Homo sapiens: one gene and its partners. The protein of the gene in region 4 purifies or fractionates together with the protein of the main gene of each other region. This does not show direct contact. Each region holds a gene or a part of one and is shown on either strand. Other genes may lie near its edges. The genes, in order: TNKS, RNF111, RLIM and AXIN2.

What was found.
Region 1: the proteins of AXIN2 (region 4) and TNKS purify together in Homo sapiens (co-immunoprecipitation; one study listed by IntAct). This does not show direct contact.
Region 2: the proteins of AXIN2 (region 4) and RNF111 purify together in Homo sapiens (affinity purification with western blotting, with the first as the bait; one study listed by BioGRID). This does not show direct contact.
Region 3: the proteins of AXIN2 (region 4) and RLIM purify together in Homo sapiens (affinity purification with western blotting, with the first as the bait; one study listed by BioGRID). This does not show direct contact.

Annotation. Positions count from the first base shown.
Region 1 is NC_000008.11:9,704,737-9,710,809, forward strand, and holds part of TNKS (poly [ADP-ribose] polymerase tankyrase-1), read left to right. Parts: coding exon 1-21; intron 22-1,450; coding exon 1,451-1,517; intron 1,518-2,074; coding exon 2,075-2,261; intron 2,262-3,634; coding exon 3,635-3,756; intron 3,757-5,218; coding exon 5,219-5,310; intron 5,311-5,405; coding exon 5,406-5,484; intron 5,485-6,073.
Region 2 is NC_000015.10:59,087,716-59,093,788, forward strand, and holds part of RNF111 (E3 ubiquitin-protein ligase Arkadia), read left to right. Parts: intron 1-1,951; coding exon 1,952-2,044; intron 2,045-3,343; coding exon 3,344-3,439; intron 3,440-4,797; coding exon of another isoform or gene 4,798-4,821; coding exon 4,822-4,925; intron 4,926-6,073. UniProt on the Homo sapiens protein: E3 ubiquitin-protein ligase. Required for mesoderm patterning during embryonic development. Acts as an enhancer of the transcriptional responses of the SMAD2/SMAD3 effectors, which are activated downstream of BMP.
Region 3 is NC_000023.11:74,593,406-74,599,478, forward strand, and holds part of RLIM (E3 ubiquitin-protein ligase RLIM), read right to left. Parts: intron 2,596-6,073; 5' UTR 2,573-2,595; coding exon 2,404-2,572; intron 985-2,403; coding exon 901-984; intron 1-900. UniProt on the Homo sapiens protein: E3 ubiquitin-protein ligase.
Region 4 is NC_000017.11:65,549,076-65,555,148, forward strand, and holds part of AXIN2 (axin-2), read right to left. Parts: intron 586-6,073; coding exon 445-585; intron 1-444. UniProt on the Homo sapiens protein: Inhibitor of the Wnt signaling pathway. Down-regulates beta-catenin. Probably facilitate the phosphorylation of beta-catenin and APC by GSK3B.

The DNA of each region.
Region 1 (6,073 bases), on a different chromosome or scaffold from region 4:
TGTTCATGCAAAAGACAAAGGGTAGGTCTATCAGTTTACTTCCTGTCAGTGCTTTGTTTTTTGTCTGATACTCTAAACTTTTAAAACACTAGACAAAGTCATATGTCCCATTTGTTACGGCTTACATAACGTTTTAAGAATGTTCATAACTCTGGTTTGAGGCTTTATTTTCATGTACCTACTTAATTAAGGATACTTCTCATAATAATTTCCCAAATCAATTTAATTTTATCACCGTTCTGTTACTTGAAGTTGAAATTGTGTCTCAGTTGCAGTTAGGGTTTTTCAACTCTTAAATTGCATTTTAGAAAAATAAAACAAATTGAAAATTATGAAAATCCAGTAGCATAGCTATCAGATTCAACAGATAGTAAAGGATCATCCTTTATTGATAAACCAAAATCATAAGTATACAATACCAAATTTTTTTTCTGGTGAAATCTTGGACATCTAAACTGAGAAAACCTAGAAGGTTGATGTGAGGGGATATGGGTGGTAACTAAAAAAGCAGTTATGTCATTTATTTTACCAGTAGGTCATTTTTGAAAACTTTGTATCAGTTTCCTGTAAAGTCTCCAGAGATATACGATCATTGGGTTTGCTGTCCTATGTGGTGGACTAACATTTCTCATTGCCCCACTTTAAGATCTGAAAGATAATTAACCCTACTACCCAGGTAAGGTAGATTATGTTACAGTCTTGTGACTGACAGCATAAAGAAGAGATGCCCTAGAGGAGAGTTTCTTTCACTTTGTCCCTCCCCAAGTCAAGAAACATAAAAATGAACTCAATGCTTGAGACACTTACCAGAAGAATTCTTCCATTTCCAATCTGCTTTTTCTGGTGCTGTTCTCTTGCCTGCACCAGGTTTTGTGCCATATGTGAATGGTGTCCCAGTAGTATAGGGGCATAAATGCCTGATGCTCTTGTACATCTCTATTTCCTTGTGCATGTCTGAAAACAGATGGGTGTACAATAGGTGAGTCATCAAGAGATGTACACCACAAAAAAAGGGTTTTTTTGGTTTATTTAGAATACTTTGATATGCAAGTTATAATAGTTTGGATATTTGATTATTTTGCTAGAAATTACCATTAAAGTGAATTAAAATGGTGGAATATTTCAGTTCACTACCAATTAACATTTATTTCTTGTAAATACTTAATATATAATGCATGCATTTGTCAATTAGCATATGATCTTCCTTTCGCCAAAATGTTCTTCTATTTGGTATTTTTTTCATTATCTTCAAGGATTATATACAAAAAACAAGATAAATACAAAAGGTGTGAACATAAGCTATGCTTTGAATTCTTTTATTATTTTATTAAATACTTTTAAATATTTTAAAATAATTGTATTGGGATTTATTGGATTTTATTTCTTAGTACGACATGGATAAATAAGTTGTTTGAAATTTAAGTATTTTAATTTGCCTCTTTTCATTTAGTGGACTTGTGCCTCTTCATAATGCATGTTCATATGGACATTATGAAGTCACAGAACTGCTACTAAAGGTAAGAGAAATTCAGAATATTGAGCATCATTTACTTTTTTTTTTTTTCTTTACCTTGTCATGACTTTCCATACTTTCGGCCTCATGAAAGTTTGTTTAGTTCTTTGGGGTTTTTTGTTTGTTTGTTTTGAGACAGGGTCTTGCCCTGTCACCCAGGCTGGAGTGCAGTGGCACATTCACAGCTCACTGCAGCCTCAACCTCCCAAGTTCAAGTGATCCTCCCCCTCAGCCTCCCCAGTAGCTGGGATTACAGGGGTGTGCCACCACGCACAGCTAATTTTTATGTTTTTTGTAGAGACGAGGTTTTGCCATGTTGCCCAGTCTTGTTTTTTTAGATTTTAAGAGAATAAAATACGTTTTTAAACATATTACCATTGCCTTAAAATTTTTAAAACATTGAATTTAATTTCAGCTGTTTTTGAAAGGTGATATTGAAGAAATTAAAACACTTATTTGAACAAGTTATAACTGAAATTTACAAAGAAATAAATGTCTTTTGAGTTTTATTTGATCCAGCAAAATGATTACTGACCTAAAATGTTTTTTTTCTCAATTCAGCATGGAGCTTGTGTTAATGCCATGGATCTCTGGCAGTTTACTCCACTGCACGAGGCTGCTTCCAAGAACCGTGTAGAAGTCTGCTCTTTGTTACTTAGCCATGGCGCTGATCCTACATTAGTCAACTGCCATGGCAAAAGTGCTGTGGATATGGCTCCAACTCCGGAGCTTAGGGAGAGATTGACTTGTACGTATTTATATCCCGAAATCATTATCGCATAAATTGGAATATTTAATTTCTGTTGAGTTTTATCTACCTTAAATAATAACCTTCCATTCTTACAAGCAGACTAATTCATAATCCTCATTTCTAATTGTATACTTTTCTTCATGAATTCCATGGGAATGTTATATACAGACACTTTTTGTATATATTGTATTTATTCGAGCCTAGTTTTAATTCGTATGTTGAAGCTCCTTTTTTGGTTTTTTGAAGGCTAATGAGGATGAGTCAATCAGCATCCATTTCTTGGATACTTGCAATGTGGCAGGCACTAGAAATATAGCAGTGTACAAACCATTAAAAAGCTCTGAGCTTCTGGGGCTTACATTCTTGTGCTATTGACAGTGATAGGTATCTAGCATTATTGAAACCTCTTATGGGCTTACGTTCTTGTGCCATTGACAGTGACAGGTATCTAGCATTATTGAGCCCTCCCCATTTCCCGAGCCCTGCAAGGCTGCACAATCATATTTTTATTTGTCATGTGTGTTATGACCCAAGTATAATCACTTTCCCATATTTAAGTGAGATTTTAAAAATAATTAGGTTGAGGTCATCTTCTGAATATATTACCAATATATACATGCAAATGTTTTTTAAATAAACTTTTTGTTTCAGCATAGTTAAAGATATAAAAATATTGGATTCTCATTCATGCAATTAATTTAGATACAGCTTTTCAAAAAATCTCTCACCTGGTTATGAAAATAATAAGCTATTAATTGTTCTTTGAAAAATTTTCAAGCTCTGCATTTCTCCCATATTTTAGTCCTTTCCTTTTCTGTGTCAAGACCTAATCACCATTGATATTTTGGTAAATATTTCTGTAAATGTTTTCTATACCATTACTTATGGTGTACTTATGGTGGCAATAGTAGTAGCAAGAGTAGTGACAATACCAAAAATAATGCATCAGCCTGTCCTTTCTTTTTTGAATTTTCATGTACCACTGTATACTTTCATGTCAGTGTATGTAGACCTATCTCTTGTTTAAGAGCTAGAAAGTGTTACAGCATATGTGCACACAAATTATTTAACTGGTTTCCTTTTGGTGGACATTTAGGTTTCCTGTTTCAAAATTTTGCTGCAATAAGTATCTTTATAGGTGTATCTTTATGACTCTGAGAGTGTGAAACAGTCTTATTTCAGAGCATACATACTTCACATTAATCTACATCCTCATCTTTTGCATTTTTATCATCATATTATCACATTGCTGCTGTTGTTAAAATAGAGAAATTCATAAAATAATAATATTCCTACTTATTTATAATCATGCTGAAGATTTTTATACATTTTTACATCTTTTTTTATGTCAACCATTGTTTCATTGACAGATGAATTTAAAGGTCATTCTTTACTACAAGCAGCCAGAGAAGCAGACTTAGCTAAAGTTAAAAAAACACTCGCTCTGGAAATCATTAATTTCAAACAACCGCAGTCTCATGAAACAGCACTGGTAAGATTTTATTGTTAATCTATTCCCTGTGTCTATAATAATAACGTAAGCACAAAATATGATTTTCATTTCAGAAACCTTAAAGTAACTTTAGTATCTGAAATGCCAGGAATTTGCATGTTAATTTTGGTTGCATTGATTTTTAAACTTAGTTTGGGGGGTGATTCTTTTCATGGGTGAGAGAATTGACATTTGCTCAACCTCAATTTGGAAATTATTTTACCTTTGTCTTCCCCACCTCATTATAACAAATCCACTTTTGTGGCCAGTGCTTTCATAAACTACAAGATATGATTTTTCAATAGAATTTTTTTTTCTTATGTTTGCTAGATAAATACTAGATTTCCTTCTGTAGAAGATTAAAGTATATTTTTAGATATTTGCATTATCTTTTTGAGCAATTGTATTCAAAGAACTGATTATATTCATGGTAGAAAAATGGCAAGATCATGAATTTTTTGTTTGATACTATACAAATTATTCTTAAAACTATCCACGTTTTTTTCTTCAAATGCACTTTCGGAAAGATTTATTTATTTTCTTTGTCATTGACACATTAAGGCTCAGCTAGAGAGTGGTTAGTGATCGCTCCTAAATTCAGAATTTAAGCATATGTGATGCCTGCATCACAGACCTTAAATATACCTAATTAATATTCTTACGTATATTTGACACAAAAGATCAAACGTTTGTCAGTATCTGCATAAAACAACATTAAAGGATTGACCAAACTGAAATAGGCTAACTATATGTACACTTAAATACATGTCTCTCAAACTAGGGTTGAGATAGATTCAAGCTACACGGTGTTATGCTAGGAGATATTCATAGCCACAGAATAAACCTGACCCACTTTTTTGGAGTTTTCATTTTATTTAGTTGAAAGTAGTTTTTTATTTTTAAATTTTAATACGAATATTAAAATGAAGCAGAATAAAAAAGTTGTATAAATATTATGTTAAAACCTAAAATTTCTGAGAATATTTTTCTCTAAACTGCTTCAGTTCTATCATTTTCTTGCTTATCCTTGGGCATATAAACGTCTCCTGTAGTGCTGGGAGTACCTCTGTAGAAGAGCTTAGAAATACTGACTTGTGTGGCTGATGGCCTAATGAAAGATTGAGTAACTTAGTTATAGATTTCTGTAGCGTTGCAGAGGCATACGTATTATGATGCTCTCCATGGAATATATAGTGAATATTTATTGATTGGCTAAGCCAAAAGAAATAAGATCTCTCTTAATGTTTAAGAGCATAATTTCACCTTGGTTTAAACGCTTACGTTTTGTATTTCCACTATACGTAGAAAGAATATGGATCATCTCTGTGATATAAAACATATACATATGTTCTGATACTCTGAGATAACAATGTTTTAAATGGTCAGCAGATACTGTTCAATTCCAAGAGCTACTGTACATATGGAAGTGTATTTTATTAACTTGGTTTTGTTTACTTTATAGCACTGTGCTGTGGCCTCTCTGCATCCCAAACGTAAACAAGTGACAGAATTGTTACTTAGAAAAGGAGCAAATGTTAATGAAAAAAATAAAGAGTAAGTATAATTGCAGAAGGAGTTGTTCAGTTCCTAAAGAGGAAATGCAATAAAAGAGAGACAATTACCTTTTCTTTCTTTCCTCTTTTCTGTAGTTTCATGACTCCCCTGCATGTTGCAGCCGAAAGAGCCCATAATGATGTCATGGAAGTTCTGCATAAGCATGGCGCCAAGGTGAGGCACACACCTGAGCAGAGTGCCAGACTCAGCACTGAGCAGCCAGCTGCTCTTAACACTGCTTCTCTCTCTCCGATTTTTCTGAAGAAACTAATTTTATAAAGGACTATTAGTTCGTACTTAAATTCATGGATTCTCCTATAAAGCTGATTTAGATCTTGTTTCTAATAAAAATAATTACCCGTGTTTCTTGATCCTTTAATGTCACCCTTCTGTAAAGCAACAAAATATAGCTATAGTCATTTGAAATAGATTTCATCTTTACATTACTTTCAGTTAATACTATACGGATATATTTTGATAGTGTCCACTTGAATAACAGTTTATCAGAAAATAAATTATGTTAAATGATAGCATCAGAATAGCTCTACTTATTCTAAAAAACATTTGTGGCCAGGCACAGTGGCTCACGCCTGTAATCCCAGCACTTTGGGAGGCCGAGGCAGGTGGATCACGAGGTCAGGAGATGGAGACCATCCTGGCTAAGACGGTGAAACCCCGTCTCTACTAAAAATACAAAAAATTAGCCGGGCGTGGTGGCGGGTGCCTGTAGTCCCAGCTACCCAGGAGGCTGAGGCAGGAGAAT
Region 2 (6,073 bases), on a different chromosome or scaffold from region 4:
ATTCATCTTGCTGTCTCTGGGGTGGCAGAGGTGGCAGAAAATCTACATGTAAGCAGACCCATGCAGTTCAAACCCATTTTATGTTGTTCAAGGGTGAACTGTAATATGGTCAGTATGGTGTCATCACAAAAAAATAAAGTTTGAAAAGTATTGAAAGCATTTGGCAGTAGAGTGGTTATTGGTCTTTTGTGTCAGAATGGTTCAGTAATGGTGAGTGATGTAGATGGGGCACCTCTTAGATTACGTACGGTAAGGAAGTGAAAACATGGAGACAGTGAATATAGCCTTCTTGCTTTATAAGCTTGGCTGTGAAGGGAAAGTGAAGGAAACCCCTATTTGGTTGGCAGTAATTCCAGGATTAGTAGAGAATTTAGGTTTGGAAAAACTTAAGGTATTTTCAGGTTTAAGACAGAAAACCATTAGAGAGGAATTGTTTGAAGATATTGAAGAGAGAGAGGCTTGGTGGGAAGTAGTGAAGTAAGCATGACCCAGGGTGAACAGGTGAAGGGAGGAGTGGGTGATAAGGATTGAGTTCGAATAGGAGAAAAGCTCATCCATAAAGGCTGGAGGAAAGAGACTAGGGAGGAGAGGCTTTTCAGGGTAAGTGAAGATTTAGATAATTTGGGATGCAGGAGTTCCTTTCCGATTTCTTTGAAGATGTTTAGGAGGTTGGGTTATCTGCTGAGTAGTAATGATCTTGGTTATAAGAAAAGTTGTAAACAATTTAAGTAATAGGCTATTGAAGGTTAAAAGTTATTGCTTATTTAAATTCTTTTCCACATATGAAGTGTCCGTTAAAGCTATAAATTCTGCTTAAAGTATGTTGTGATTCAGTGTAGGCTAATTAAAAAGTAATGTCAGAGATTTATTTATAAAGATGGAAGAATGGTGCTGTATCTCAGAAATGCCCTTTCCTAATACTCTCACTATGCATGGCAGTTATGATCTATACAGTTGCTGCAAACACTGAATTAGCAAATATGGGACCCTTGCAAACCTCTGTTCACAACTAATCAGTGTATAACCTTTTTTATGTGTGTTTCTGCTTAAAGACAACTTTAAAAAATATTGTAGAATCATTAACATTGAACTCATAGCCAACAACACTGTAACTCATGCGTGAATGAAACTTATTCTCTCCATAAGGTGTATGACAGCCTTCTTTGCTTAGGAACACTAGACAGCACTTCAGCTCTATGCTTGGGTGCCATTTTAAACAACACAATCACCAACAAAAAGCACAAAACTGTGAAAAACGTGGCACTAAACAGTCTGCAAACAAGACACTGGTTTATAGTAGGAGCTCAAATACGGCAGAGCCCTGTTCTACCTCAGCTGGGAACAGAGTTGCATGTTGGGCAACTGCAATTTTTTGCCACCGGTCATATCCACGAATGACTCTGAAAGCACAAGTGTTGATTATGGGGTTACAAGTAAATTTTAGCCTGTGGGTCAGTTCACACATATGTAATCCATAAATAATGAAGATTGACTGTAACTAACAAAAAATTAGAAAACAGTGTTAAAAGTTTCCCTAATAGAATCAAGCAAAAAAGGCATAGGGTACTTTGGCTGTTAGGAAGCTTAACAGAAGTGAAGTAAAAAACTTATCTTGAAGTCGAATTTTGTTGGAAAATTGTGTGCATTTTTTGTTGTTGTTTTAATAAAGCTCTCTGAAATGGACAGGATCTTAAGACAATTTTACTCTTTTCAAGTTTGAGCTACTAAGAGCCTCAGGCTTAAGTTTGGGCATTTTGGAGAGTTAGGTTATATTTTAACAGAAACCTAAACCTGTTACAGAATGCTTAGTTGGAGTTATGTATTCTTATTGAAGTCAAATTTTATGAGCAGTTGAATTGAAAACATTGAGGGTCTTGAATTATTCAATGTTAACAGTAAATCACAAGTCTATTCTTAAAATTGATTTAGCCTATCTCTTCTGTTGAAATAGGTTCCTGATATGGCAGGCTATCCTCACATCCGTTACATTTCATCAGGATTGGATGGAACATCATTCAGAGGTCCTTTCAGGGGCAATTTTGAGGTATGTAATAAAATAAATGAATATGTTTGTCACAGTATCTTTAATGCAGATTGAGTATATATATACTACTATACACAATTGTGTAGGACTGCTACAGTGGCTGGGAATCACATGTGATTTTCTGATGTTGCTTCTGGGAGTTACAGAAATATTTGTAAGTATTATTAATCTTAGGGTCAAAAGTTACCGAAATATTTAAAGATGAGTAAATGAAAATATCTAATATAGAAGAATATAAAAATGTATTAAATCAATATAAATGTCAGATATATAACTATACCATTAAATGTGGTGGGGAACGGAATGTTTTTGACTCAGCTAAATTTTTAGAGAAATCGGTAGAGAAAAAGAAACTTAAGTAATTCCCTTTGTAGCTAAATGTCTTGTTTGAATTTTCAGGAAGAACAAATCATTCGAATGGGATTTAAAGTTTTGTTGTGGTTTGTTTTTTTGTTTGTTTGTTTGTTTGTTTGTTGTTGTTGTTTTTTTAGATGGAGTCTTGCTCTGTCACCCAGACTGGAGTGCAGTTGCACAATCTCAGCTCACTGCAACCTGCGCCTCCTGGGTTCAAGCAATTCTCCTGCCTCGGCTTCCTGAGTAGCTGGGATTACAGGTGCCCGCCACCACGCCCGGCTAATTTTTGTATTTTTAGTAGAGATAGTGTTTTGCCATGTTGGCCAGGCTGCTCTTGAACTCCTGACCTCAAGTGATCCACCCACCTTGGCCTCCCAAAGTACTGGGATTACAGGCGCAAGCCACCGCACCCGGCCCCCGTTGTGTTTTTTTTATGTCAGTTTGGAAGTTGGAGTCATTGTGACTTAGAACTATTGTTTGATTTGGTTCCTTAATTTACTAGAATTATTTCATCTTCTCCATACATACATACATACTGACTTACATAGTACCATGTGATAATATTGTTGTAATTTATAAAGATAACTTTTGCTGTACCATTTCAGTTGGCTGAGGAAAACATGATAAACAACCATTTGCCTTACTGTCTATGAGAAACATTAAGTCAGGCATGGTGGCTCACACCTGTAATCTCAGCAGTTTAGGAGGCCGAGGTGGGAGGATCACTTGAGGCCAGGAGTTTGAGACCAGCCTGGGCAACATATAAACTGTTTTATATATATACTTATATATAAGTAACCACTTGTCATGTGTAAGTTTTTTTGAACACTGTATTTATATTGCAAGTTTCTAAGTATGGAGGTTTATTTCTTATACAATGTTGACAGTTCTGTTCAAGGAATAATCATCTTGGCTTTTACCAGTCATTATATTCTTCACTTTCAGGAACTGATTCATTTGGAAGAAAGATTAGGCAATGTCAATCGTGGAGCATCCCAGGGGACAATTGAAAGATGTACATATCCACATAAATACAAAAAGGTAAGAATTTATTCTATGAAACTTCTGGAGTGTTACTGAAAGGCATAAATGTAATATATACCTTTTTTGAATTTGTAGACTCTAGCAATGACATTTTTATTGAAGTAATGCATACATATTGTTTAAAAATTTTGGAAAGTATAAAAAATATATACTTTGCAGTTTTTTACTCTGCAGACCCTAGTCCTTCTTCCCAGAAGTGAAATCATAGTTAAGGATTTAGATATTCTTCTAGATATTTTTTAGCATTTTCTAATAATGTGCATATGTATATATATTTTTGTCTACTTTAAAAAAAACACAAAAGGAGATGATTACCACATAGTTTGCAGATTGCCTTTCATGCCAATTAGCTCCCACAGATCACCCTTATTATTTTTAATAGCTTATGCAGAATTCCATCATATGGCAGTACTGTAATTTTTTTAACTAGCAATTTATTTTGACGGACATTTTATTGATGTATGTTTCTTCTACTCTACCCTCAGTTGCTTGTATAGCATTATACAGTTATGGGGTAGACATGTTAAATACGTGTCTTAAACCATGCTCAATACCAACGGTCCCCAACCTTTTTGACACCAGGGACCAGTTTTCATGGAAGACAATTTTTCATGGATAGGTGGCAGAGGGGATAGTTTCAGAATGAAACTATTCCACCTCAGATTATCAGGCATTAGTTAGATTCTCTTAAGGAGCATGCAACCTAGATCCCTCACATGCACAGTTTACAATAGGGTTCACGCTTCTATGAGAATCTATCGCTGCTGCTGATCTGACAGGAGGAAGAGCTCCAGCAGTGATGCTCGCTCACCTGCCACTCACCTCCTGCTGTGCAGCCAGGTACTGGTTTGCAGCCCAGGGGTTGGAGACTCCTTTATACTATGTAAAGAATAATCATAAAGTGTGAAAATTACTATTCTCTGTATTTTTCATCTATTTTCAAAGAGTATTGAGGTATTACCAGTACATTCAAGTTTTCAACTGTCCAAGTTAAATACTGTAACTAATGTTAATTTAAATGGATGTTACTTGAAACATTCACTAATAAAAAAAACTTATTTATGCTCATGGTAGGATAAAAATAGTTTATATTGTTTATCATTCTCATTGTGGATTAAAAGTAATAGCTTTTAAGTGAATGAATTTCTGTTAAATTTGATTTTGCTTTTGATCCCAATTATTAGAGGGTCTTAAAAATATACTTAATTGATGATAGTCACTTAATTCATCCATTTATTTATGACAGTCTTACCTGGGAAAAAAGTGCGGGTGAATATGTGGTTTTGTTTTGTTTTGTTTTTCAAATAAACACAGACTTTACTCAGTTGTTCAATAATGTCATCTCTACTAATAAGGTAACAACTGATTGGTTCTCACAGAGGAAACTGCACTGCAAACAAGATGGGGAAGAAGGGACTGAGGAAGACACAGAGGAAAAATGTACTATCTGTTTGTCTATTTTAGAGGAAGGTGAAGATGTGAGGTAACTAGATATTAATTATCTAAAATCCATTGTCAAAACTGTACATGGGATTTTATTTGAAAAGTAAATTACACCGGGCATGATGGCTCACACGTGTAATTCCAGCACTTTTTGAGGCCAAGGCCAGAGGCTCTCTTGAGGCCAGGAGTTTGAGGCCAACCTGGGCAACATAACAAGACTCTGTTTCTACAAAAAAGAAAAATAGTACAATTATTTGCATGTGATGGTGTGCACCTGCAGTGCCAGCTACTCAGGAGACTAAGGCAGGAGGATGGCTCAAGCCCAGGAGTTTGAGACTGCAGTGAGCTTTGAGCACACCACACTGCACTCCAGCCTGGGCAATAGAGTGAGACCCTGTCTCTGAAAAAAAAGAGTAAAAGTAAACTGGAAACCAAATAAAGATTACTTTTGGCATATACTGTTACCAATTTCTGGCACGTAGAACTGGCTTCATCTGGCGAGTGAAACAATAAAAGATTAAAGTATCTATGTTACCAACATGGGAGTGGGAAATATACTGCCTATTGTAGGGCCACACAAGGTTTGGCCAGGGAAATTTCGTAGTCAAAATTGTCTTCTGTAAATCTTGCAGAAATGAGAATTTGAGAGGCTTTGGAGGTCCTAGAAAGTTATAATGTGTTCTTCAAAACTTAAACAGGGATCCAGATTAGTCCTATGCAGTCTGTTTTACAGCATCTTTTTTTTTTTTTTTTTTTTTTTTCCTTTTCTGGGAGATGGTCTCCTTCTGTTGCCCAGGCTCAGGGCAGCAGTCTCAGCTCACTGCAACCTCCACCTCCTGGGCTGAAGCGATCCACCTACCTCAGCCTCCCAAAATGCTGGGATTACAGGCGTAAGCCACTGCACTCGGCTATAGCATCTTTTATAAACTGGTTTTGTCATAAAATTTCCTCTAAACTAGTAGGACTATTCCCTTCTTGCACCTTTGTTGTTTAGAAAATGTTAATATGTTAACCCTATATTAATTTTAGGCATTTTCTTTGTATAATCACTTAAGTAATTGTTTTCTTCCTGTTCTTTTTTTTAATGTTAACATAATGCCATATGAAACAGGTTCTATATCATATATAACAGAACCTTGTAGTAATATTATTGCCCTAATTTATAAGGATAACTTTGTCGTACCTCTT
Region 3 (6,073 bases), on a different chromosome or scaffold from region 4:
CAAACTAGGTAAGGAAACAGTGTTTAACGAACAGTCACATTTAGTTCAAGCTACATTTCTGTCAAATTTTTATTAGTCTACATACTGTGCCTTTGATAACATTTGAGGTTGTTTTAAAATACAGGACTATTTATTGTAGCCATAAGAAAAATACAAACAAGATTTATAGGTTTAAAAGCATTTGAATATTTCTTAATGTTACCAAGGTTTTCAATGGACATGAAGTTAAAGATCAGATCAAATAAGTAGTCTGAACCTTGCATAGCACATATAATGGCATGTTCAAGAACCAAATTATTATCGTAGCCTCTCAGGTTGCACAATCAAAATCCCTACTTGACACTGGGAGGGAAACACCAGACCTGAGGTTAGAGCAGGATTTCTCAACAGTGGTACTACTGACATTTTAAGCCAGTTAATTCTGTGTCATGGGGGCTGTGTTGTGCATTATGGCATGTCAGGATGTTTGGCAGCATTCCTGCCCTCTACACAAATGTCTCCAGACGTTGCTAATGTCCCACATGGGGCAAAATTATATCTCATTAGGAACCACTGGGTTTAGACATTTCTTTTTGCTGGTGAAGAAGTCACATGTTTATAAAGAAGGAATTAAGTAGGAATAAATTTCAATGGAGGTGAAAAACAAACAAACAAACAAAATCACATTTAAATGGGCCATTTCTCACTGTGTTCCAATTAACATAAACATCTCAAAGGTGAGGTAGAAAAAAAATGCTGACATTCTAAGTATCAAGAAAATGTCAGTTTTCTTTTTATGAGCAGTTACTTAGCACCAAATTAATTTGTGCCAAATCTGGATAATCTTTGGCTGACATTTACTATTACAAAGTTCCTATCATCCCATCGTCTATCCACCTCCCCACCAAAACCAAAACATACCTCTATTTTCATCTGAGTTTTGCGGTGGTGGGCCTTCTTTAATTTGCTGTAGTCGTCTCAGCAACTCTTCCTCAGTACTTTCACCTGAAATTTAACACCACAGGGCAAAGATGACATTAGGGGTATGACAATCAAATACTTTATCAGTGACTCACAGTAATCTGACACAAGATGATTAGAAAAAAAATCATATTTTTAAAAGAGAAAACTTTTTCAAACCAAAAAGAAAAACCAAGGAGTAGGTAGGTCCTGGGAAAAATTCACTTCTTTGGAAACATATTAAAAGCAATTTACAAAGTTCTTTTGCATATAACATCTAACTTTGGCTCACGCCTGTACTCCCAGCACTTTGGGAGGCCGAGGCGGGTGGATCACCGGAGGTCAGGAGTTCGAGACCAGCCTGGCCAACATGATGAAACCCCATCTCTACTAAAAATACAAAAATTAGCCAGACATGGTGGCAGGTGCCTGTAATCCCAGCTGCTTAGGAGACTGAGGCAGGAGAATCGCTTGAGCCCAGGAGGCAGAGGTTGCAGTGAGCAGAGACTGCACCACTGCACTCCAGCCTGGGCGAAAGTGCAAGACTCTGCTTAAAAAAAAAAAAAAAAAAAAAAAGGCAAAGGCAATTCTAAGCTGGGCGCACAGTGGTACCACATCTGTAGTGCCAGCTCGTTGGGAGACTCAGGCGGAAGAATCCCTTGAGTCCAGCCTGGGCAACATGAGACCCTGTCTCAAAAATAAATAAGTAAGTAATTTTTAAGAATTGCAGCTTTGAGAGGAGGATATTGTTATCTGCATTTTAAAATTAAGAAACAGACTGAGCGACAGACTGGCTTGCCAGGAGCCACACCAAACAGCAGGGCCAGAACTCCACCTAAAGCATTCTGATTCAAGCCTGGTATTGTTGGCTAAAAACACACTCCCTCTCTTAAAAGTCATGCTAAAACCTTACCTTTTAAAATCTAAGCAATTACTCAAAGGTAAGTAGAATTAAACAGAAATGAAGAGGAAGACAGATACTGACTTTTAACTAGGATCAAATGGGACTTAGTGGGGTAAAAGATAATTAAGCACAAACTTCTAATTGCTATGTTACCCAAGGCTAGCTCTGGAGGATTACAACTGGGACATATTCAGAAAATCAGAGATAACAGAATAAGTCTTTCCTAAAAACTAAGTTCCCATTAGCTATTCCACACTCGGATTCTTATCTAGTAAGTTAGATAAAGCTAACTAAGAAAAAAAAGATTTAGCTCCATTCTTTTCAATTCAGTTCGCTAAAAATTCATAATTCATAAGTTAAAAATCTCTCTGATATAGTGTAATTCCAAACATCAGTAAATATAATCAGGTAATAAATACAGCAATAAATGTCATTCCATATCCCCTATGTTAAATAATATTTCATAAGGGCTAAAGAAATGGATTTTTAAAACAGGTTCAAGCATTTTTTTTTAAACCAGCAACTTACACTTATAAATCCTTAAATATATGTAAGCATACCTGGGGTGCCTAGCAAATTGTTATCTCTCATAAGCCTATAATCTTCTTCACTCAGGTTATTTACAAATTGATAGAAAGCTTCTTCTCGATCCAATCGGTCCATCTGACTTCTGCGCTGTGCTGCAGACTGATCACCACTTCCTTTGTCATTGGAATCTGAGTTTTCCATATTGATGAACAAGTGGAAAATACCTGAAAAGAGAAAAGAGACTAATCTTGAAAATAAAGGTCACTATGTATTCTATACAAGTTTTAATTATGTGAAAATCCAGAATGTAGGTCTAGAGATGGATTTTCAGACCTCAAATGAAATTTCCTAACAAAAACTCCTGAAAAGCACTGTTATATTAAGAGTAGGTCAAGGGTTGGCAAACTACAGCCCTTGAACCAGACAGGGTTGGCGAACTAAAGCCCTTGGGCCAAATCCAGCCATACTGTGGTATTTTTTGTTTTTTGAGATGGAGTCTCGCTCTCTCAACCAGGCTAGAGTGTAGTGGTGCGATCTCAGCTCACTGCAACCTCCACCTCCTGGGTTCAAGTGATTCTCTGCCTCAGCCTCCCGAAGTAGCTGGGACGACAGGCACCTGCCACCACGCCCAGCTAATTTTTGTATTTTTAGTAGAGACAGGGTTTCACCATGTTGGCCCAATCTGGTCTCAACCTCCTGAGCTCAAGTGACCTGCCCTCCTCAGCCTCCCAAAGTGCTGGGATTACAGGCATGAGCCACCGCACCCAGCCTCGTGCTGCATATTTTTATTCTCCTTGCAACCTAAGAATGGTTTTTAGAGACTATCTTGTGACATATGAAAATGCAATGAAATTCACATTTTAGTGTTCATAAAGTTTTATTGGAACGCAGCCATACACATTCATTTACATGTTATCTATGGCTGCTTCTGTGCTATAATGGCAGAGTTGAGCAGTTGTGACAGACTGTATGTGGCACTCCCATTGCTTTGGACTGCTGCTCTGTGCACTCTTAAGTTGCAGTGATGTAGCTATAATGACAGCATTTCAAGTGCCTTCACACTGGACATTAAAAAAAACTGAGTATACACTCATCATCTCAAACAAAGAGAAAAGTGGACTCTGAATGTCACGCTTAAAGGTGCAGCAGAGGATGGGTTTTTCAAAAATCAGATTAGATGGCAAAGAATGCATGATTATGCAAAAAATACTATATACTAAATACAATATATACTGACACTATTAAACACTAGTGACAATATTCCCAATTCACAGGAAAACTACAGTTCAAAAAGTTAGAAAATTTAAAGTGAAATCTCATCACAAAATATTTCTTCACAAAAATAAAAATGAGGCTTCAATCAAAGTAAATTTCCCAGGGGCTCATTTATTGGCTAAACGAGGAAAGCTGTTTATTGATGGTGAGTTAGTGAAATTATGTTTGAGTGCAGAAGCTGAAGAAATGTGTCCAGAGAAAATAAACATAATATTGGACTTTTGGTAAGTATAGTGGTCCAAAAAGCTGGGAATATTGAAAAGCAATGTCACTAATCAACTGAAAAATAAGGTAAATGATGGAGTGGTTTTCTCTTTGGCTCTTGATTTGTTGACAAATGTAACTGATACTACTTAAGTTATTGTTTATTCAAAGAGCCAAGTGTTGATTATTCAAGGAGTTTGAACTGCAGAAGTAGCCCCTATGTGTAGTCTACATGAAATAATCATAGGTGAGAATATTTTCAAAGTTGAGAAAACTAATTCAGCAAAACCTGAAGCAGAATCTCATAATAAGATATGTTACTACTGGAATGGTAAAAATATATATGGAATGGAAAAAGACCTAGTTGGACAAATTTACAAAGTTTATGAAAATGTAAGGTATTTAACGTTTATGGTTATATATTTTATTACTCATCATCAAGTGATCTGAAGAAAATTTCAATCTATCATATTACTGAACCAGTAGCACTAATGATAAACTTCTCTCTTATGAACTCTGGTTTAAGCTCAAGTTCCATGAATTTTTGTCAGAAATTTTGTCTTGCTCTACAACACAACATTTGATGGGCTAATATTGGTAAAGTTTTATTGTGATTTGTTGTGCTCAAGGCAAAGATGGATTTATTTTCTGTGAGAACCGCTCTCAATTACTATTATCAAACAATAAATAGCTTGGAAAATTAGTGTTTCCTGCAGACTTGATAATGTTTCTTAATGAATCCATCCTAAAACAACAAAGCAAAAAATACTTATATATGAAACTTATACTGTGGTAAAGCCATTTCAGCAACAACATTGGTATCACATGTAATGTCAAGCTGTTTTATATACTTCATGTCCTGACAAAGTAATGAGAGCTCCATTCCCACACAAATTTGTAGCACATACATTTTCTGAGCTCAAACTACAGTTCCAGAACTGTTTTGCAGACCCCAATGTAAGCACAAAATAAATTTCCTTATTTCAAAATCCATTTAACTGTGCAACTGAGGAGCTTCCATCTAACCCTCAACTAGAAGTGACATCTCTGCAGTGGTAATATGCCAAAAGGTAAATATTAAAGTCATCTGGCTGGGGTGTGGTGGCTCACACCTGTAATCTCAGCACTTTGGGAGGCCGAGGTGGGAGGATCACTTGAGCCCAGAAGTTCAAGACGAGCTTGGGCAACATAGTGAGACCCCATCTTCATAAAAAATTAAATTAAATTAAAAGATAAAAAATTGCCAGGCGCGGTGGCTCACGCCTGTAATCCCAGCACTTTGGGAGGCTGAGGTGGGCGGATCACGAGGTCAGGAGATAGAGACCATCCTGGCTAACACAGTGAAACCCCACCTGTACTCAAAACACAAAAAAATTAGCTGGGTGTGGTGGCGGGCGCCTGTAGTCCCAGCTACTCGGGAGGCTGAGGCAGGAGAATGGCATGAACCTGGGAGGCGGAGCTTGCAGTGAGCAGAGATCGCGCCACTGCACTCCTGCCTGTGCGACACAGTGAGACTCTGTTTCAAAAAAAAAAAAAAAAAGATAAAAATCTAACAAAATTCTATATATGCTTCACTAAAATCATACACTTGTGGATTGCTTAAGATAGCAATACCTATATGTATGAAAAGATATTTTCAAAGATTAAATATTTAAGTCAGCAATAAATGGACATTTGCAAATGACTAATAAGGAATACTAGCTATGAATCCCAATTAAGCAAAATGTTACCCTCAAAAGAGTATCATTCTTCTCATTAGTAAACCTATCTCACGAAACACTGTACTCAATTATTGTTATTACATTTTGAGTTTTATCAGGAAAAACTGTGAGAATTTGGTTTCTCTCTTTTGTGTGACAATATGCTCAATTTTGCTTTTTGATCTGCAAAGCCTAAAATATTATACTATCTGGCCTTTTAAAGAAAAAGGATGCCAACTCCTGTTCTAGGTAATACATAAACTTAGCCAAAAATTCTTGTCATTCACTATTTGTACGAGTTTAAGGAAACCAGAATATTGGCAGACATTCCACACATACTCATCAATGAACTGCACACTAATAAAAAACAATGGTAGTCAACAATCTAAAATACAGGGAGACTACAAACAAAAATGTTCATCCTCTAATTCTTTACCTTACAACCCCAGATTCCCCTTATGTTCCCCACGAACACAACTAAATTCCATGAACATATGTGCTACTGACCAAATGTTTGTCCCCC
Region 4 (6,073 bases):
CAATGAATACCTAAACACAGACCCTTCTAATGCCACCTTGTCTCCCAGCTGTTGGTTCTGCAGACAGGATACCTGGGTTTCTGGACCAGCCAAGCAACTGTTCCCACAGGGACAACCAGATGATGACAACCAGAAGAAGGTTTTTTAAACTCAAGGAATCTATAAATATTCATTCATCCTAATCTTCTACTGTCCTTTAGTTTTTCTTCTGTTACAATATCCTCCCAACTTTCAAAGCTCTAAGCTTTACCCTACCCAGATGACCATGTCATCCTCCTTAATCAGCACCATACCCTTGTCATACTCCCCTCCCACCAAACTGATGTCCATACATGCACAGGTGCGGTCTGCAAAGCCAGCTGAGGATGACAGACGATTCTGGCTAAGTGCTCAGGTGGCATCCACTCCCAAGCAAGCCCACGGAAGGGTGGCCAGGATACTCACACACTGCTGTCCGTCATGGACATGGAATCATCCGTCAGCGCATCACTGGATATCTCACTGTCGTTGGCGCTGGTGGCTGGTGCAAAGACATAGCCAGAACCTATGTGATAAGGATTAACAGGATCGCTCCTCTTGAAGGACCTATGGGCAAAGTACAAAAGTGGTTCAGTCACTGACCCTCACCAGAAACCCAGGTAATCAGGTGACCCCAGGACAACCCAGCACACTATCCCACAATCTGCTCAACGCCAACCTGCTGCCCAGGTCCAGTTGCTCACCTGGGCAGAAAGCAGGGGCCACAAAAGGGAGGCCTCCTGAGCCACCGGTTCACCCTGGGGAAAGCAAGCTGGTTCCTCTGCCCCCAGTGGTGGGTCTGCCAGGGCAGAGAGTATTCCAGAGGCAGCCCAGGGGATCCTGTGAAGCTCTAAATGCACTTAGAGGAAGGAACTGGACTCTGCTTTAGGAGAGGAGGCCATGGAATAGAAGAGGGGAACGAGTCAGTGAAGATGAAATATCTTTCTCTGCTCCACCTCCCTATCCAATCCTGCACCAAAGAATACAATTTCAGGGCCCCAAGACATCTTAAGTACCTAAACTCCTTGTCTGGGGTCTGTTAGCCCAGTCCAGAGATGCAAACAGCTAGAGGCCAGTGTGGCCTTCTCACTTTGACCCTGGGCCCACAGTGAGCTGGACAGACGGGACAGAAAAGTTCAAGACAACGTTCAGGACTCCAATCCCACCTGTGAGCTCTGCCATGAGCCGTTGCCATGCCCCTTCCCCCAACCCCCAGCTTCCTCTCCCCAGGACTGGCTAGTGCAGCAGGATTGAAATGAGCAACACAGCTGTTTCAAAGGAAGGCCCAGGCCCCTCCTCCGGTATCTCCAGCCCTTTTGTTTCAATGGCCTCTGGCTCCTAATTTCACCCTCCTGATCTCCTTCCAGAACAACCAGTGTGCACATCTCCTGCTGGGCCGCATTCCTCTTGTGTCACCAGTGAGGGGCTTAAGTAGCGGGGAGGGGCAGATAGGTCGGCAGGCTGCACGTTAAGGCCTGAAGTCGCAGGAGGCCTATTTACAAAGACCCTGGCATCCTCCACTGGTCCCACCAAGTCTATGCCAGCAGCAAAGAAATCAAGTGAGGGAGAAAAGAAAGGCTCAGAAAAGAGAATATATTCTATTAGTCCACAGCAGCTGGTCTGTAAAGATGGCCGTGGGGTTGGCAAATGAAAAGGACCCAGAAAGGTGACAGTCAGCTGTCTGCACATGTTCACCAAGCTCCTACTCACTTGCTACATGCTGAACTCTGGTCTTCCAGCACCCATGGCCTGGTGGGGGCATGTCACCATACTGTGGGGGTGTCATGAGGGAGGTACGCTCAGTGTTATCACAGGCTCACGAGGAGGGGAGAAGGAGCACTGGACTGTGCCCATTCTACAGATGAGGCCCTTGGAGTCCAGAATTCCAGCAGCCTGCCCAGATCACACAGCTGGAACTGGTGGGCATGGATTGAGTCACGTGGCTCTCAATCAAACTGCCTCCCAATACAAAGACTAGACTCAACATGTTTCCAAGTTCTCACAGAATAAAAAGCAGGAAAGGAGTGCCTTAGTACAGGTAACCCAGATGACGGATAGAACATTTCTAGGAGGGACAGTTGGGGACGGCTCCCTGGGACAGATGGGACTGATGGGACTAATGGGACTAACGGGACTCCCTGGGACAGATGGCAGATGGGACTCATGGTTGAGCAGGAATTTGAGGAGATGACAACCCAGGACTAGGTAAAGGGAAAAAAGGGAAAGGTAGCGAAAAGCTCTCCCTAGACTAGGGAGAGAGAGGGGTCTAATTAGCCAGGCTAAGAAGGCCTGGCAAGGGACGTAGGTCTTCAGTGCAAGGTCATAGTCCTGTCTTAACTGGATGGGGAGGGGCCAGGAGGCCAGGGGACAGCAGGGGTGCCAGGGGACCGGCAGGGAGAAAGCATTCCCATCAGCACATAGGATCCAAGGTCTGTCACCAGACTGGATGGAAAGGAGGGGTAGGTACAGGCAGGGAGCCCTGGGGGAAGCCACCGCCACAATTTGGTGTGAGGGTCTGTCTCAACAGGGGATGGTGGGATGGAAAAGAAGGTAGGAGAGGCAGTCTCTGCCTTTAAGGAGTTTGCGCTTGTTGGAGTCACCAAACACACACAAAAAGTTACAGGGCCATAAACTTTTTAAGCCAGAAGGGACCCCTGTAATCATCACAACCACCCAAGGAGGTAACTTAGCACCATGTGGGCCAAAGGCCTTGTCAGACTTGGCCAGAGGAGCCGGACCACAGCTGTGCCCTGGATCCTGTCCGACTGCATCAAGTCAGATCTTAGAAATATGCTGTAGGCATAGAACTGACCAGAAGGTGCAGACCAGGAGCACTGCACATGAACCCCTCAACACTTTTGACCAAGTGACTTGTGACCGTCACTTGGACACTCTGACCCTGTTCTCATATCTGTAGAGGGCAAGAAGTCTCACGACCTCCTGGGATTTTTTTGGTGAAAATTAAATGAGAACGGTAAGATCTTCCAGGCCTTCCTCCTGGTCCATGTGTCCTCAATCCGGAATTCCCCAACACCAAGGGCAGAGAGGAGTGGTGAGAGTAAAAAGAACAGTTCATTCTTCTGGAGAAGAGAAGGTTGATTCAGTGAAAAAGGCCTCGTAGTTGAGAAGGGGGACTCTCTGTTCAGCATCCCCACTAAAGGAAGAACAAGGGGAAATAGACTTCAAAAGTTAGAGAGAAAAAAATACTTCTAAATGGTCAGAGGAAATCCATAAAGTAGGTGGGGACAGGCTGTGAAATCACCCAAGTCTTTAAAACAGGCCAAAGTGCCCAGCCATCTGGGTGCGTAAGTAAGGCGTGGATACTGCCTTGAAGCAGGATGCACACGATGACTTCCTTGGGGCCTTTTCCTGTTGTTAGGAATCCAGTGATGAGGCCACATTCTGTAAACTCTCAGTAGGGACCAGAAGTCAGAGGCTGGGCACTGCTGCCGGCTTGGCTGCAGTGCTCACTGCTGGGCTGAGTCACAACCCCTCCAGAGGTGGGCACCCACCTGAAGAGCAGGCAGTTGGATCATGGCCTCTGCACCAAGTTCTGAGGTCCTCCAAATGAACCAACAAAGGCACAGTAATTTGGGGGAAATCACAGGAAAATTCCAAGAAAAAACCGAGTGCCAACAAAAACAGAGAGCCCCAGCCAGGCACGGTGACCCACGCCTATAATCCCAGCACTTTGGGAGGCCGAGATGGGTGGATCACCTGAGGTCGGGAGTTCAAGACCAGCCTGACCAACATGGAGAAACCCCGTCTCTACTAAAAATACAAAACTAGCCGGGCGTGGTGGCGCGTGCTTGTAATCCCAGCTACTCGGGAGGCTGAGGCAGGAGAATCGCTTGAACCCGGGAGGCAAAGGTTGTGGTGAGCAGAGATCACACCATTGCACTCCAGCCTAGGCAACAAGAATGAAACTCCATCTCAAAAAAAACAAAAACAAAAACAAAAAACCAGAGAGCTCCCATTTTCTCAACTGCCCTAATTTCCTTCATCATCTTTATCATGATCTATAATGACTGGACACTGGTGTTTCCATGTTGAACACCTGTCCTGTGAAACCAGACTGTAAGCTCCATGAGGGACAGCCCTGTCCTCACACGAATCTCCGACGCTGAAAGTAGTGAGTGGCACGTGGCAGTGACTGAAAACCTTGCTGACTCTCCTTAAAGGACCTAAGACCATTAGATGGGTCACTGGAAAAGTTTTTTAGTTTAACAGGCATGGTGCAACACCAAAAAAGCCAAAACAGCCTTAAATAGCATTCAAACACTCTTTCTTCCATGCCTTCAGTCCTGCTATCTTGGTGGTATTAACACATCAACCATGTCTCCACTGTAAGAGCTATACTTCAACCTCTGTGGGGAGAAAATGACTCAATAGAAAATTCCTTCCTCCCAGCAAAAAAGACACCTAACTCAAACCCTATGTGTGCTCACACGGCTTTGCACTCGTTGTTTAACACATGGATCCCAAAATAAACTTGTCTCCCTTCACTTCCAACATAGAGGACTACTGTGTGACCAGTAATTAAAAATGGAATATACTGCTCTTAACTCAGTTGACTGCAATAAAGTACTTGGATTTTCCCACAATCATAACAAGACAGGGCAGAGAAAGGAGGCAGGGTTGTGGGGAGAGGCAGAGACTCGGTATTTCAGAACCCAGACCTTTGTCAAAAGTGCCACATAATTTTAAGAAAACGGAGTGGGGCTGTTTTCTTGTGATTACTTAAAAAAAAAGGCGGGGGGGGGGGGAGGAAACTCAAACCACGCTACAGTAATTGTACCCAGATGCTTTATTTCCTCAGGACTGTTGTGCTTCCAGTTGCTGCAAGGATTTTAAATTCCTACACAGAGTAGAGGCCTATGCTGCAGCTTCTGCATCAGCCTCACATCCACAGACCTGGTTTGCAACCTCAGTAAGCAAAGGGTTTTCAGCCTGCAGGTGGCAGAGACCCCCGGAACCTTCAGGGAAAGGAGGTGCCGGCTGCTTTCTGTTTTCCCCTATCCTGTTCTTATCTCCTCTTAATGAGATGCTGTGGCCCTGCCCCTCCCCATAAACCAGAGGGGAGCCTCCAGGCAGGGAGCACAGAACTGACCTGACAGAACTGACCATAGGGGTCCTCCTCCTTCTCCTCCTCTTCCTCTTCCTCCTCCTCCTCCTCACGTTCCCTTCTCAAAACAATGCAACTTCAAAAGTATATGCTTCTAAGTCTGTGCGTTCAGGGCTTTCCAAGAGCCCTCTGAAAATTTACTCACAAGGTCACTGCCCAAAAGGCAATACCCTCTTCAACAAGCATTTTCTAAGGCAAGATCAAGGGACACTCGGCAAGGGGCCAGGACTCCAACAGCACTGGGCAACGGGACCTTTTGAAAACAGGCAAACTTTTACAAGTGGATCTTAGCAAACTGCCCTCACCAGAGCTTCCATCCTCTAATTGTGGACTACTGCTTCCAGCATATCTTTCCTATGGCATCATTTTCTTTGATAATTGAAGCCAAGCTTGATTCCAATGGCTCCGCACAAAAACGGGCCTCATCAGCGAGTTCTTTCAGAGAACTGGAAGCAGCACTCGGAGCCAGCAGAGGGCCATCTGCTGGGCCCGACTTCTTTTAAGGGAGGCCAGAGCAGAGGGCCCAATGGGAGGCAGATGAGCCCCACCTTGGGCAGGACACACAAGGGCCCGTGCAGAAAGGCGAGGACACAGGGAGGGCTCTGTGCACCCAGCACCTTATTCTCCTCCCCAAAATAAATGCTGGGCCCAGTGCCCAATCCCACAACCCCCCTTCGCACACACCTCGACACTGTGCGTGTGTGTGTCTGTGTGCCGGGGATTTTACACGTGCTCCTACCAACAAGTTGCTTTTGCTCTAGGTTATTTATAGCCATTGTCAAAAGCCCAGGCATCCCCCTCAACCACTCAGACCAGAGTCCTGCCCTCTGAGGATAATTCCTGCTCTTCCGCCCCAACTATTTATATTAAACCTGACACCAAATCAGTAAGGACACAAACAAGTCGTTAAAAACGAGGCTCCTTTGAGTG